2 linked regions of the Homo sapiens genome follow. The protein of the gene in region 2 binds, or shares a complex with, the protein of the main gene of each other region. Each region holds a gene or a part of one and is shown on either strand. Other genes may lie near its edges.

What was found. The genes of interacting proteins can lie anywhere in the genome.
Region 1: CNOT9 (region 2) and CNOT6 share a complex: the UniProt entries of both Homo sapiens proteins name them as parts of the CCR4-NOT complex.

Annotation. Positions count from the first base shown.
Region 1 is NC_000005.10:180,489,596-180,497,472, forward strand, and holds the start of CNOT6 (CCR4-NOT transcription complex subunit 6), read left to right. Parts: upstream 1-4,783; 5' UTR 4,784-5,168; intron 5,169-5,825; exon of another isoform or gene 5,826-5,993; intron 5,994-6,056; exon of another isoform or gene 6,057-6,160; intron 6,161-7,877. UniProt on the Homo sapiens protein: Poly(A) nuclease with 3'-5' RNase activity.
Region 2 is NC_000002.12:218,571,822-218,578,915, forward strand, and holds part of CNOT9 (CCR4-NOT transcription complex subunit 9), read left to right. Parts: intron 1-7,094. UniProt on the Homo sapiens protein: Component of the CCR4-NOT complex which is one of the major cellular mRNA deadenylases and is linked to various cellular processes including bulk mRNA degradation, miRNA-mediated repression, translational repression during translational initiation and general transcription regulation.

The DNA of each region.
Region 1 (7,877 bases), on a different chromosome or scaffold from region 2:
GTTAACAGGAATCCCGGACAGAAATATAGTTATAATTAAGCATTAATCAGGCGGCACTTAGGCCCACTTCCTTGTAACAGAAAGTCATGTAGCTCCGGACACTGACCATTATGCACCCCCGCTGTTACTACAGATGGGATTTCTGATGTTAGGGTCCTAAGGCTTTTGTTTAAAAATCACTTAAGCAGCCTGGCACAGTGGCTCACGCCTGTAATACTAGCACTTTGGGAGGCCGAGGCGGGCAGATTGCTTGAGGGCAGGAGCTGGAGACCAGCCTGGGCAACAAGGTGAAACCCCATGTCAACAACAACAATTAACGGGGTGTGGTGTATGCCTGCAGTCCCAGCCTCTCCGGAGGCTGAGGTGGGAGGATCACCTGAGCCCAAGGAGGTTGAGACTGCAGTGAGCCGTGATCATGCCACTGCACTCCAGCCTGGGTGACAGAGTGAGAACCTGTCTCAAAAATACAGTAACATAAATAAATATAGGCCGGGTACAGTGGCTCACACCTGTAATCCCAGCATTTTGGGAGGCCGAGGCGGGTAAATCACGAGGTCAGGAGTTCAAGACCAGCCTGGCCAACGTGGTGAAACCCCGTCTCTACTAAAAATACAAAAATTAGCTGGGTGTGGTGGTGTGCCTCTGTAATCCCAGCTACTCGGGAAACTGAGGCAGGAGAATTGCTTGAATCTGGGAGGTGGAGCTTGCAACAAGCCGAGATTGTGCCACTGTGCTCCAGCCTGGGCAACAGAGCAAGACTCTGTCTCAGGGAAAAAAATAAAAAAACAAAAATAAGTAAATAAATATGAAAGAAGTGCTCAAGCAGATCCTGAACTCCAGTCGAACAGGTGATGCCAACCAGTTTGAAGACCCCCAACCCTTGCCCAAAGGAACCAATCAGCATGAGAATCAGCACGGCTTCATCCTGCTCTCCTTGACAAACCAGCAATCTCCATTCTTCAGCCCACTCCAAAACCCTTGAAAATCCTAGCCCCAAACTCATCAGGGAGGCAGATTTGGTTTCTTCTTGTCTCCACATCCAGTGGCCCTAGGATTCAAACCTCCTCTGCTGCAGCCTGGTGTCTTGGCGCATTGACTTGCTGTGCACATCGGATGATGACCCTATTCTGGTGACGCATCCCTCTGTGCAACGCATTTACTGGTCAAATTAGAATTATTTTGGTTGTAAGCTACAGAAGCCAAACTCAAACTTAAGCGAAAAAAAAAAAGTATTGGTTTGTATACCTGGAATAGGTTCTGGTATAGGTCACGAGCTAAAGGAAAAAACTACTGAAACAAGTTGTCAGGCCCTTGCTCTGAGACTCCACATCTTCACCAGTGTCTCATCTCTCCATGTGGTGGGGAAGATGGCACTGGCTGCCACCAATTCATGCTGTCCTCGCTTAGCACGTATCAATCCCAGACTGGTCCTGCTTTGGTACTGCCTGACTGCAGTAGAAACAAGGCCCAGGCCAGGCCAGTGAGAGCCTGCCCTGGGTCTTTGGCTGGAATCATTAGGAAAGAAGCACCTTCTCTAAGCGGAGAAGCTGGTAGAATCTAAGCCTGCAGGTGTTGGTGGCATCTTTCCCGCTTGTGAGGCCTGCAGAGAGAACAGGATGGAGGGTGGGAGGTGAGATCGATTCTTGATGCCACCTTACAATGCCTGAATGGTTCAGCATTCCCTCTTTCAATTCAATTCCCTCCTTCTTGCAAAGAAATATTGAGTTGTGAGTTTTATAACTTGCAATGGGAGGTCTGGCCTAACATGAGGGGCACTTTGATCTGGCCTGAAAGGGTGAGTAGGTATTTTGCGGGGTTCTCCTCGGATATGCAGAAAGAAAAGGGCATGCACAGCAGAGCCACTATCGTACCCTCCTGGTGGCAGCAAGTCTCCCCAGAGGGCTCCAATTAGTCCACCCCGCCCTGCATGCACGCGCAGCTCCTCCACAGCTTATGTCCTCTCCTCTTGAATCTGGCTTGGGCTTGTGCCTGCTTTAATTCATAGAATATTGAGGAAGTGGCCTTCTTCAGAAGGCCTGGCAGCTTCGCTTTCCTCTTGGAGCCCCTGGTTGTCATGTAGGAAGTGCAGGATCACCTCCTGCTGGGGAAAGGGGCCACACACAAAGGCTGAAGGATGAGACACTGCGGGGGAGGCCTCGTTAGGGGGCAGCGAGGTGCCAGACATTCAACACCCAGCTGCCACCTTTGGTATAGGCATGAGGCCCCAAGGGTGAACATCAGAATCATGAGATACAGTAAAACTGTTGCTTTATGCTACCAAGATTTTGTGCAACAAGACCTCCCCTCCTCCATACAGTCGTGCCAGTCACAAGGGAATTGCTCCCTCTGTTTTTTGTTTTGTTTTGTTTGAGTTTTTTTTTTTTTTTTTTTGAGACAGTCTTGCTCTGTTGCCCAGGCTGGAGTGCCATGGCGCAACCTTAGCTCACTGCAACCTCTGCCTCCTGGATTCAAGCGATTCTCATGCCTCAGCCTCCTAAGTAGCTGGGATTACAGGTGCCCGCCACTGCACCCAGCTAATTTTTTTTTTTTTTTTTGTATTTTTAGTAGAGACGGGGTTTTGCCATGTTGGCCAGGCTGGTCTCGAACTCCTGGCCTCAAGTCATCTGCCCGCCTCGGCCTCCCAAAGTGCTGGGATTACAGGCGTTGAGTCCCCGCACCGGGCTGAGGTAGCTGCCTCTGGCCAAATTACAAAAAGGCACCCAGGCTGGAGCACAGACGGCCAGGGCACTCACACAGGGAGGAGAGGCCCTGCAGGGTGTCTGTCCCATTGGCCCCTCAGCCTGGGATACTCTGTACAGCACAGGGCCGCACAACTCCCTGCTGTACAGGAGGAGGTTGTGGAGGGATGGCCACAGGCAGCTTACTGGTCTACATGTGTTCTTCCTGACTCCTAAACTTCTGCACTGCTCTGTCTTTGCCCAGTGTCCTATGGCGCTAGAGGCCTGGGCTGTCACTCCTGATGTCATGGCAGTGCCAAGCGATGACCATCCCAAGGCCGTGCTGGGGAGAGGGGGATCATCTTCACCTCTGAACAGCTTTTGTCCCTCATCCTTTCCTTGCCCTTCCAGCCAGGTCTCCTCCACCCCAGGCAACAGCAACCCATTTCCCACATCCCCAGCTCTCAACAGCCTTCACTGAAGCAGAAGCCTCGGTTTGTTGCTACTGTTAGTTCCTGGAACCTGTCTCACTCTCATTTCTTCAGGGTTGATTTTCCAGGAAGCAGTTAGCAGCCTATCCTAGTTTGCCACATAGGTGGGCAGGCAGCTTTCCTTTTCCTTCACGCCTTCAACATATAGCTCAAATTTTTTTTTTTTTTTTGAGACAGGGTTTCGCTCTTGCTGCCCAGGCCTGAGTGCAATGGTGCGATCTCCGCTTACTACAACCTCCGCCTCCCAGGTTCAAATGATTCTCCTGCCTGCCTCAGCCTCCCGAGTAGCTGGGATTACAGGTGCAAGCCACCAGACCTGGCTAATTTTTTGTACTTTTAGTAGGGACGAAGTTTCGCCATGTTGGTCAGGCTGTTTTCCAACTCCGGACCTCAGGTGATCTGCCCCCCTCGGCCTCCCAAAGTGCTGGGATTACAGGCGTGAGCCACCGCGCCCGACCAATATACCTCCAATATTAAGTCTGTTGGGTGTTATTCTTGCCCCTAGACTGTGAGCTTACTCAGGGCTGGGTGGGGTCTGATTCATCTCTGTGCCCTGACCATCAGTCAACTAATATTTCTTGATGTAAGCATCATGAATCAGCCCAGTCATTTCTCTGCTGACCTTCAAACACCAGAGTTTGCCCTGAACACCTTTTGATCTTGGAGCACAGCAGCTGCTGTCCGTTACCCAGGCTAGGACCCCAGCACCAAAACTGTCCATTAATGTAATGGAATGAATTACCATTAATAGGCTGAAGTGGTATGTTAACTTACTCTTCTTTGTATAATTGAGGAAGGAATAATATTCGACTGTTCACGATTGAATGTCTTGTCTTTAGGCAGATCAAGATACTGGCTCCGGTCAAATACTGTGTTTCGACGTGATTGACAGGCGAAGGCTTAAGGAAAAGGAAGAGGAGAAAAAAAGGGGAGGACGATCAAGGAAAAGAGGAGATAAAAGTGGACAACCCAGCCGGGCGCGGTGGCTCACGCCTGCCATCCCAGCACTTTGGGAGGCGGAGGTGGGCGGATCACGAGGTCAGGAGATGGAGACCATCCTGGCTAACACGGTGAAACCCCGTCTCTACTAAAAATACAAAAAATGAGCCGGGCGCGGTGGCGGGCGCCTGTAGTCCCAGCTACTCGGGAGGCTGAGGCAGGAGAATGGTGTGAACCCGGGAGGCGGAGCTTGCAGTGAGCCAAGATCGCCCCACTGCACTCTGGCCTGGGTGAAAGAGCAAGACACCGTCTCAAAAAACAAAAAAAAAGTGGACAACCTGGGGCGGAAAAAGAAGTAGATGAAAAATGGAGGAGCGCTAAGGAGAGGAGAAAACAGAAGTGCCAAGGCAGGAAAGGAGCGAGGAGAGCGGGAACAGAAGGAGACGAAGGATGGACGGAGAGGAAGGGATGGAGGGCGGCAGGCAGGGAGGCAGGGCCCGCAGCGCGCCGGGCCGGTCCACCGCTCTCCAGCGCGGGGGTAAGGGGGCGGGGCCTGGGCAGCTGCGTGCCGGGAGCGACCCCCGCACCGAAGGGCGGATGGTTGTGCCCGGCGACGGCGCCCAATGAGCGGCCAGGATGTTGGAGCGCCGGCGGCGGTCCGGGCGCTCGCTGGCTGAGGGACGGCGGCCGCCGCCATGATGCTTGTTTGCTTTCAATGAAAACGAGGGGGGCGCGGAGGAGGAGGCGGCGGCGTCGGTGGCGGCGGCGACGGCGGCGCGGAGGCGAAGGCAGCGGCGGGCGCAGCGAGGAGGGCGAGGCCGGGGGCCGAGAGGGCGGGAGGGCGTAGTGGCGGCCCGTCGGGGCGGCTGAGGCGGGCAGCCGAAGCAGTGGCTCTCGGAGGGGGAACAAAGAGCAGCGACTAAGGCGGCAGAGGAGCGGCGGCGGTGGCGGCGCTGCAGCAGCGGGCGGGACTGGTATGGTGGTTCCACAGGGCAGACCCCGCTGCACTCACAGGGAGGAGGAGGCGGCAGCGGCGGAGGAAGGCGGCGCACCCCGAGAGGTGAGCGAGGCAGGCCGGAGGCCCGGTCGGGGCGCCGCTCCTCTCTCCGGCCGCGCACGGACCGCCCCCCGTCGGCCGGGCTCGGTCGCGGGCAACTTTCGTTTCGTGGGCGGCGGTCCCGCTGCTCCGCAAGCTGGCGGCTGTTGGGGGCCCCTTCGACGCGCCGCGATCGCGCCCCGCCCCGGGCCGCGCCCCCGGGCCGAGTCCCTGGGAGGGGGGCGTTGATTGACGGCGGCGGCGGCGGCGCGCAGAGGGGAGAGGGTCGGCGCTGGGCTCCCGGATCCCGGCCGGTCCCGGCTGCCGTCGTCGGAGGAGGCGAGTCCGTGTCCCGGGACTCGTGGCCAAGATGGGTGGCAACTTTTGAGAAGCGCCTCTGTGGGTGGCGCGCTGTGTGGAGTGTGGAGCTTCGCGCTCCGTGGCCACAATTACTGTCAAGCGGGAAACCAACTGCTTACCCCCTCCCCTAAAATGTTTTTAAAATTCAGTTTAACGCAGATTTTGAGGGAGAGGACGGGGTGGATTACAGGTTAAAGAAGCACTTGGCATGCAATGAGGATGCTTATTTTATAGTATTGCGAAGGATTCGGAGATTGTACTGGTTTCTACAAGCAGTTTTCTCTGGTAACCCAAATTGCATCCCTCCTTTTTGTTTTTCAGCACTAATCGCTATTTTCTTTGGAAACTTCCTTTGATTCTTTACCTCCTTCACCTTCCCCGAAGAGCCTGCTAACCAACACCTGTGGCCTTCTGTTTTTAACTGTTGTTGCCATTGACAGCGTTGTGAATGGTCATCTCGCTCGAGCTCTTTGGATTTGTTGTTACTGTGTAAGCTGATGTGTTTTAGATAATCTGCTTCAATTTGAGTTCCCATACTTACCTGTTTTCCAGGTGGATTGTCTCATTGTTAGTGCTGAATCTTCTTGCCTACTTGTATCTGGGAATTTAACTTTGAAGAGGAAGAGAGTGAATATGAATAACTGAAAAATAAAATGGTGTGTAGTAGCACTTTGTATTTTTTACAATATACTAGAATTTACTACTCTAGAACAGATTAGTAGGCTGTAGGAGTGGACGTGGGCCATTGATCAAAAGGGTTTAAAGGCTTTTTTGGGGAATTGCTGTTAAGACATTTATCACAGTCTTTATTTAATTTATTTATTGTTTTTGAGACAGGATCTCACTCTGTCACCCAGGCTGGAGTGCAGTGGCACAGTTCTCGGCTCACTGCAGCCTTCGCCTCCTGGGTTCAAGCGATCCTTTTGCCTCACCCTCCTGACTAGCTGGGACTACCGGCAGACACCACCACGGCTAATTTTTTAATTTTTTGTAGAGCCTTGCTCTGTTGCCCAGGCTGGTCTCCGACTCCAGGGCTCAAGCGATCTTCCTTCCTTGGCCTCCCAAAGTGCTGCAATTACAGGCATGAGCCAACATGCCTGGCCATCACAGTGTTTAGAATGTGATGACTTTTAGAGTAAAATTTAGAATAAAAATTGCTTAATATCTTTAGATCTGTGATCTACTCCAGGTGTTTTGCTTTAAACAAAATACATGAACAGCTGCTAATGAGAAGACAGACCTTTCTAGGTGGAGGTGACTTGCCCATGGTACTGTAATGAGGAGGGAAAGGACCGGGTTTGTGTGCGTGTGAGAGCGCATGAGTGTGCGACCTAATCGCTAGAGGTTTGTTCTTTTGGGAGGAGGGAGGGTATGTTAATGGTTGGAAGTTATTTCAGGTCACTTCTCAGTCGATGAACGAGATGCTGAACGAAATGATCAAAAAAGATGATGCAATTGCCAGGCATGGTGGCTCACCGTGTAATCCCAGCGCTTTGGGAGGTTGAGGAAGGAGGATGGCTTGAGCCCAGGTGTTTGAGACCAGCAAAACCCTGTCTCAGAAAAATATAAAGTAACATATATAAAGTCTGTGATAACTGTCACAACGTAGTGAGACCTTGTCTTGATCACTTTATAAAAACGGTGACGAAAGACAGATTTTCTTGTGAGACTGAAGATTTTCTCTGAAAGTCAATCATTAGGTAATTTCCATAGTGTCTTGATAGTGGTGATGCAGCCCAAGCGGCTCCTCTTGAATGCCTGTTCAATTTGTAGGTATTTTCAGGTTGCTTAAATGTTGTTGGCAAAGTAAAACTACAATTATTGGGAAATTTCAAACTTTTGAGCAGACATAAGGTTGGTTTATAGAACTTGGTCCTAACTACAAATGTGTAAAGGCGTTGTAGGAATTTGCCCACTGTACATGTAGTTTAAAAGTATGCATTTTATGCCAGGCGCGGTGACTCACGCCTGTAATCCCAGCACTTTCGGAGGCCGAGATGGGTGGATCACCTGAGGTCAGGAGTTCGAGGCAAGCCTGGCCAATATGATGAAACCCTGTCTCTACTAAAAATACAAAATTAGCCAGGTGTGGTGGCGCATGCCTGTAATCCCAGCTATTCAGTAGGCTGAGGTGGGAGAATGGCTTGAACCTGGGAGGCAGAGATTGCAGTGAGCCAGGATCACGCCACTGCACTTCACCCTGGGCAACGAGTGAAACTCCGTCTCAAAAAAAAAAAAAAAAAGTATGCATTTTGGTGAATGCTTAGACATTCCAGTACCTATATTTGCCTTCTTATATTCTTTAAATGATAAACCTTTTTCATAGTGCAACAGAAAAGGATAATATATGTAAGACATATTGGAATAAATGGT
Region 2 (7,094 bases):
TGATCTGCCCGCCTCAGCCCCCAAAGTGCTGGGATTACAGGCATGAGCCACTGCGCCCGACCTTGCTGTTGTCATTCTTGATGGAATACATCCTAACATCTTCATATATTCATTACCGCTACCATTGAGCATAATTTCTTTTTTCTCTCCTCTAATAAATAAGGACAGAAGTACCACACAGGATTATTCTAAAGATTAAGTAAGAATAACAAAATGCGGCCGGGTACTGTGGCTCATGCCTGTAATCCCAGCACTTTGGGAGGCCAAGGCGGATAGATCACCTGAGGTCAAGAGTTCCAGACCAGCCTGGCCAACGTGGTGAAACCTCATCTCTACTAAAAATACAAAAATTAGCTGGGCATGGTGGCAGGCGCCTGTAATCCCAGCTACTCAGGAGGCTGAGGCGGGAGAATCACTTGAACCCAGGATGTGGAGGTTGCAGTGAGCCAAAATCGTGCCATTGCACTTCAGCCTGGGAGACAAGAGCAAGACTCCATCTTTAAAAAAAAATGAAAGAAAGAATAACAAAATGCTCAGTGGTTGGCTAGATTCACTCACTGATATGTGACTTGTTCCCAGACTTCAGCTTTGGGAATTTAATTCCCAAATTAAAGGCTCACACACCTATAATCCCAGCACTTTGGGAGGCCAAGGCAGGAGGATCACTTGAGGCCGGGAGTTCAAGACCAGCCTTGGCAACACAGTAGGAACCTATCTCTACAAAAAATGTTTAAAAATTTTCCAGGCTGCAGTGAGCCATGATCATGCTACCGCACTTCAGCTTAGGCGACATAGTGAGACCCTGTCTCAAAGGAAAAAGAAAACTACAAATCTTTGCATGCCATAGGTATTCTGTAATGGATGTTATGCTTGTGAAACAACCGGAGGTAAGCCTTTAGGGGATGTGTTTTTGTTTTGTTTTGTTTTTAATTTCCCACTGATTTCCACTGACAATTCTAGCATCCCTAAACACTTGTCTTTCTCTCACTTTCCGCCTAACCAGCAGCATCATTAGTTATTTTACATCTTTTTATTGAAGCTGTCATGGACTGCCAGATGCCTTCCTTTTTGGCAAGTAGAAAGAACACTGCACTCTAAAGGATTTAATTCACTTTCTCCTCCCGAGTCTCCTGATGAAGCTTTAGGCAAATTGCCTAACTTATCTTTCCTTATTCACTTTCATTTTTTAAAAGTTATTTTGAAAAAATACATTCTGGGCCGGGCATGGTGGCTCATGCCTGTAATCCCAGCACTTTGGGAGGCTGAGGCAGGTGGATCATAAGGTCAGGAGTTCGAGACCAGCCTGGCCAACGTAGTGAAACCCCGTCTTTGCTAAAAATAGAAAAATTAGCCTGGCGTCATGGCATGCGCTTGTAATCCCAGCTACTTGGGAGGCTGAGGCAGGACAATCGCTTGAACCTGGGAGGCGCAGGTTATAGTGAGCTGAGATTGTGCCATTGCACTCGAGCCTGGGCAACAAGAGCGAAACTCCATCTTAAAAAAAAAAAAAAAAAAAAGATACATTCTGGCTCTTATAAAATTATGAAGGTAAGCTAATTTAGTACTTCCAGCACTATTAGAAAGTTCATTTTCTTGGAATACCATGCTGACACCCAAATCCACGTGTTGATCTCCAGACTTGGGAAAATAATCTCTATTTCAGTCTGATTCCATTCTTTATGTATTGGCAGGAAAATAAACAGCTATTTTGGCCCTTAAACATAAAGTTACATTGATAATTTGGCTATTTTCTGTTTAAGAAACCATCAGCATCAATTTTTTAGTTTACTCAGAGAAGGAAATCATTTTCTTTACCATTTATAGATAAATGTCATGTTTTATTTAAAATAATTTATAAACATCTTTATACTTTTCACATTATGTGTTAAAATCTTTCAGAAATAGAAGACCAACTTAAACTGTCAGTACCCTGTGTGACACTTGGAGTTAACCATTGGTAACTTACTTTGGTAAATACCTTATCTGTATGTTAAGCTTTCTTGGGGAAAAAAGGTGTCATTTGAAATACATTTTCCATATACAAATCATTAAACAGAAAAGGAGGGAGAGTTACCACCTAAATTTTGATAATATGAAAGTTTTTTAACACACTTATTAAAAGAACAGGACTGTTGACTTTATTTTTTTATTTTATTTTATGTTTTTGAGACAGGATCTCGCTTTGTTACCCAGGCTGGAGTGCAGTGGTGTGATCTTGGCTCACCGCAACCTCGACCTTCTGGGTTCAGTCGATTCTCCCACCTCAGCCTCTTGAGTAGCTGGGATTACAGGCAAACGACACCACACCAGGCTAATTTTTGTATTTTTAGTAGGGGCAGGGTTTCACTGTGTTGAAACTCCTGACCTCAAGTGATCCACCAGCCTCAGCCTCCCAAAGTGCTGGGATTACAGGTGTGAACCTGTCTCTGTGCCTGGCCAGGACTGTTGACTTTAGCAGGTTACAATTAATAATCTACGGTAATGTACTATAGAGCTTTTTTCTATTCTTGGAAGTGTTAAGGATAACTCATAATCTAAATCAGATTTCTCATGATGATTCTATGTGTCCAGGTATGTAATTGAGCTCACTGTGTATCCAAATCCAGCTGTTAATGAGTTCTGTGCTAAGGGAATATTAAATTTAAGAAAGTTTTTTTGGGTTCTTAAGAGTAATTTCTTCAACTTGGAGGAGTATTTGTGCTTTCTATCCTTGAGACCAGATAGAACTCATCGATTCTAGAGAGAAGTAGAGTTTCAGTCTCATTCTGCTGTACACTGGCTGTGTGACCTTGAGCACATTAAACCTCTATTAACCTGTTTCCTCTTAGAATTTTGAGAATAAAATGATGTAATCCACAGTGCCTGAAACATGGTATGCTCAATAAATATTACTGCATATTAATAATTTCTGGAAAAGGCAGACCTAATCTATAGTAGCAGAAAACACCCATGATTGCCTCAGGCTGAGTATGGGGTTTACTGAAAAGGGCATTAAAGAACTTTTTGGGGTGAATGGATCTATATCTTCATTATGGTAGCAGTTACTTAGGTGTATAAATTTCTCAAAAATCTATTGAAGCGTACACTTAAAATGAGTTCACTTTTATTGTATGCAAATTATACGTCAAAGTTTTTTTTTTAAAAAAAGAGCCTCTTAGATTAGACTCTCACAACTAAGAACTAAATAATTTCTAAGATTTTAGAGTTGCCTGAGACTGACAATTATTTAATATAGTTCCTTCACTTTAACAATGAGAAAATTGAGGTTTGGAAAGTTAAATGACTTATCCTAGGTCACACAATTCTAGAAAGAGCAAAACTGGATTTTGAAGTCACTTCAGGCTCCCACGCCAGTGTGTGTTCCAATTATATACACATGTAGTTCCTTGCAAATTGAGGTCTTTCCTGTTCTTCAATTTGATAAACAGATTCTTAATCCTGGGTACATGGATACATTGCAGGAACTCTGTGAACTCCTTAAAATTATGTGTAGGTTTTCGTGTTTTTGCAGTTGTGTATTTTTCTGAGTAAAAGATCCACAATTTTCTTTTTTCTTTTCTTTTTTCTTTTTTTTTTTTTTTTTGAGATGAGTCTTGCTCTGTAGCTCAGGCTGGAGTACAGTGGCTCAGGCTGGAGTACAGTGGTGCAATCTCCGCTCACTGCAAGCTCCGCTTCCCGGGTTCACGCCATTCTGCCTCAGCCTCCCAAGTAGCTGGGACTACAGGTGCCTGCCACCACACCTGGCTAATTTTTTTGTAGTTTTAGTAGAGATGGGATTTCACCATGTTAGCCAGGATGGTCTCACACTCCTGACCTTGTGATCCTCCCACCTCGGCCTCCCAAAGTGCTGGGATTACAGGCGTGAGCCACCGTGCCGGACTTCATTTGATTCTTAAAGGGTCTGGGCCTCAAAAAATGTCAACCTCTGCTCTCTTGGTTGGTATCCTGCAATTATTATTAATGCTTCAAATAAGGTAATTTCCAGTAGAGAAGTCATAGATTAATTTGCTTGCCTGTCAGTGAGCAATGTGTGCTACTAGATTGAGTTCCATATCAGCCACAGCCTTAGAAATGTATTAGTAAATTAAAAATTCAAAGAGTTGTAGCATCTGAACTAGGAATCATTAGAGGTGATCGTTACAGAGTGGCATGAGGAGTAAATCTGCCTGTTGTCTGCCCATGGTTTCATCGATTGTTAAATGAGGTTAATAACCACCATGTTGTGATCATTAAATGAAACCATGTTTTTAAAAAAAGGTGGTACAACAGAACTAACTCTTCCCTCACCTGCCGTACCCCTTCTTCTACTGCCCGCCTCCTTTTAAAAAGATGTCAATTACAGATTCTTTTTGTGAAAGATGGGCCTAAATAACTCTTGGGATATGGAAGGAGAGTAAGATACATTTTGAGTTTTGGTGTTTTATTTAGGAATGTCCAAAATATTTTATCAATCATCTGGTTATATAAATTAATATATAACTCAAAATATAAGAATATTTCCTTTTTATTCTCCAAAACAATGAAATTCCTATATGTGTGTTACAAAATTGCTTGTTATATGTCCATGTGTGTGTTGGTGGTTCTCACTAAGTAAATTATGCCCCATCTGATCCATAATGTGACACAGGGAACTATGTGAAACTATTGTACTGACTTCTCTCTGAAAACAATACCTATTAAGTGCTTTGTAATCTCAATAAGTAGAGAATTTCTCCTAACATCAATGCTACTGTTCATAGTACTGAGTGTTCTTTCAGATTTTGTTGAACTACCACCAATAACATTTTACTTTTTGTCTGAGATTTTTATGTATTAACTATATTGTCTAGGTCAAAGAATATAATTTATTAGGAAGTCATTTTTAGGCTGAGCACAGTCGCTTATACCTGCAATTCCAGCACTTTGGGAAGCTAAGGCAGGCAGATCACTTCAGGTCAGGAGTTTGAGATCAGCCTGGCCAACGTGGGAAGGTCCCATCTCTGCTAAAAATACAAAAATTAGCTGGGCATGTGGCATATGCCTGTAGTCCCAGCTACCGGGGAGGCTGAGGCAGAAGAACCGCTTGAACCTGGGAGGCGGAGGTTGCAGTAAGCTGAGATCACACCACTGCACTCCAGCCTGGGAGACAGAGTGAGGCTCCATCTCAAAAAAAAAAAAAAAGTCATCTTTAGATCAGATTTTGTCTTTCAGGCAGATGAGAAGCAGCATTAGCAAAGCGGTTAAAAGTGTGGGCTCTGTTGCTAGAACACCTGGGTACAAATCCTAGCTTGCCATTTAAATTTTACATAACTTCTCTGTGCCTCAGATTTTCCTTATCTATAAAATGAGAGTGCTGGTAAATATAAGTATTTAGGACAGTGCCTGGCAGAGTAAGCACTGTATGTTTTAAGCTCTCATTTTTATTTTTAAAAAATTGTATTCATCCCATGACAGGTGGGTATTCAGTTGGTGTAACTTACTGCTGTTATTAAATTGGGGGTGAAATGCAACAGGGATGATGAAAAGGAGGATCCCCACCCTAGATATTTCCTGGCACCAAACTGCCCTCCTTTTGGCTAGAATGACAGCAGAACCCATAACACCAAGCTAGTGCCCATGGGGGCCACATTACCACCCACCTGACATGGTTCTAGCTCTCTTAGAATCAAAATCACATGGAGGCTGCAGCCCCCACAAATAATCTCACAAATTGGAGTATTGCTAGCAGCAGGTGTCCATGGCTTTAGGAACCCGTGTACGCACCAGGCATTGGCCTTTCAGAGTGCCTACACCACTGCCAGCAGGGCCATCTTCTCTGTGGGCATCAGGCCAGCTCCAGAAAGAGAATATGTAGGGATGGGGCCTGGTGTTCAGGAGGCATGGTATGCAAACCAGTGGTTACCAGGGCAAGATGGGGTACAAGGTGCCAACTGCAAGTCACACACTGGCTCCAGTAGGGATGATGGAGTTTACTGATGGTGGTATCTGTATGACAAGACTTTGGGGAAGGTCAGCTGGAATGGGTACTGATTAATCAGGAAAGGTACTATATTGCCAGACCAGTATCTGTGAGGCCCCCTTTGGTTACTGGATTGTGGGGTCATCCAAGAGACTGGGCAGGAAACCTAACACTAAAATTTTATCCTGTGTTTCTGCTGAGCGTCTAAGGTGATGTAATATTCTAAATAAACACATACCCTATCTTCAGGTAGGAATTACATTTCCAAAAATAGTTTTTAAGTTGAGGGCCTGTTTGTGGCTGCCTAGAAAGGGCAAGTGCCTGAACAACACTGCTTTTGCTGTTGGGAAAGGAGGAAAAAAGCTACCATATTCCTTCTATCATATTGTTGCTTTAAGAGCCTATGATTGATTCCTTGAGGACCATCCCTGAAGGGAGTTACAAAACAGCTTTTAGCAGATTACTGTAAGGCACTTAAAGCTTAAGCTGCATTGTATTTCAGTCTATTTAGCAGAACAACTTGTGGTTCTTTCTGTCAGGCTAGTGAAATAGTAAAAATAAAGCTAAAAACTTACAATGAAGCTTCCATTTTTAAAAGGCCATTATTCAGATTGGGTAGAGTAAATTTGAATCCACTTCAAAGTCTATTTTATGCTTCTGATCTTCAACAAAGGCAGTTCTTTGTGTTCTTTGTCTTTACATCTGTACAATGGGTAGGTCATCATTCTGTCAAGCTAAGATCTTTTGGGAACTTATAAGTACTGTGAGAAACTGTAATATAGTTCAAAAAAGTACGGGAATATGCAACTTCATACCTTCATACCTGGTTAAATTGAGTGAGTTAATTCCTCTGAACATTAGTGATCTCATCTGCAAGTGTAGATAGCCTTCCCCCCCGCCTCCCGCTCCTTCTTTTATTTCTCATGGTTGGGGGCAATTACCTGAGAACATATTGGGCATAGAGATGGAAATCACCAGGAATTTGTTAGCAGTTTAGAGCTTAGGGGTAGCAATTATCATTTTTCTAGTCTCCCATCTTGTTTTCCAGATAAGAATAATTAAGGAACTTAACCAAGGTCACAAACATATTTGATGACTATAGAGAATTATAAAATATTCAAATTTGGGGGGAATATTGTGATTCTTTAGCATAATA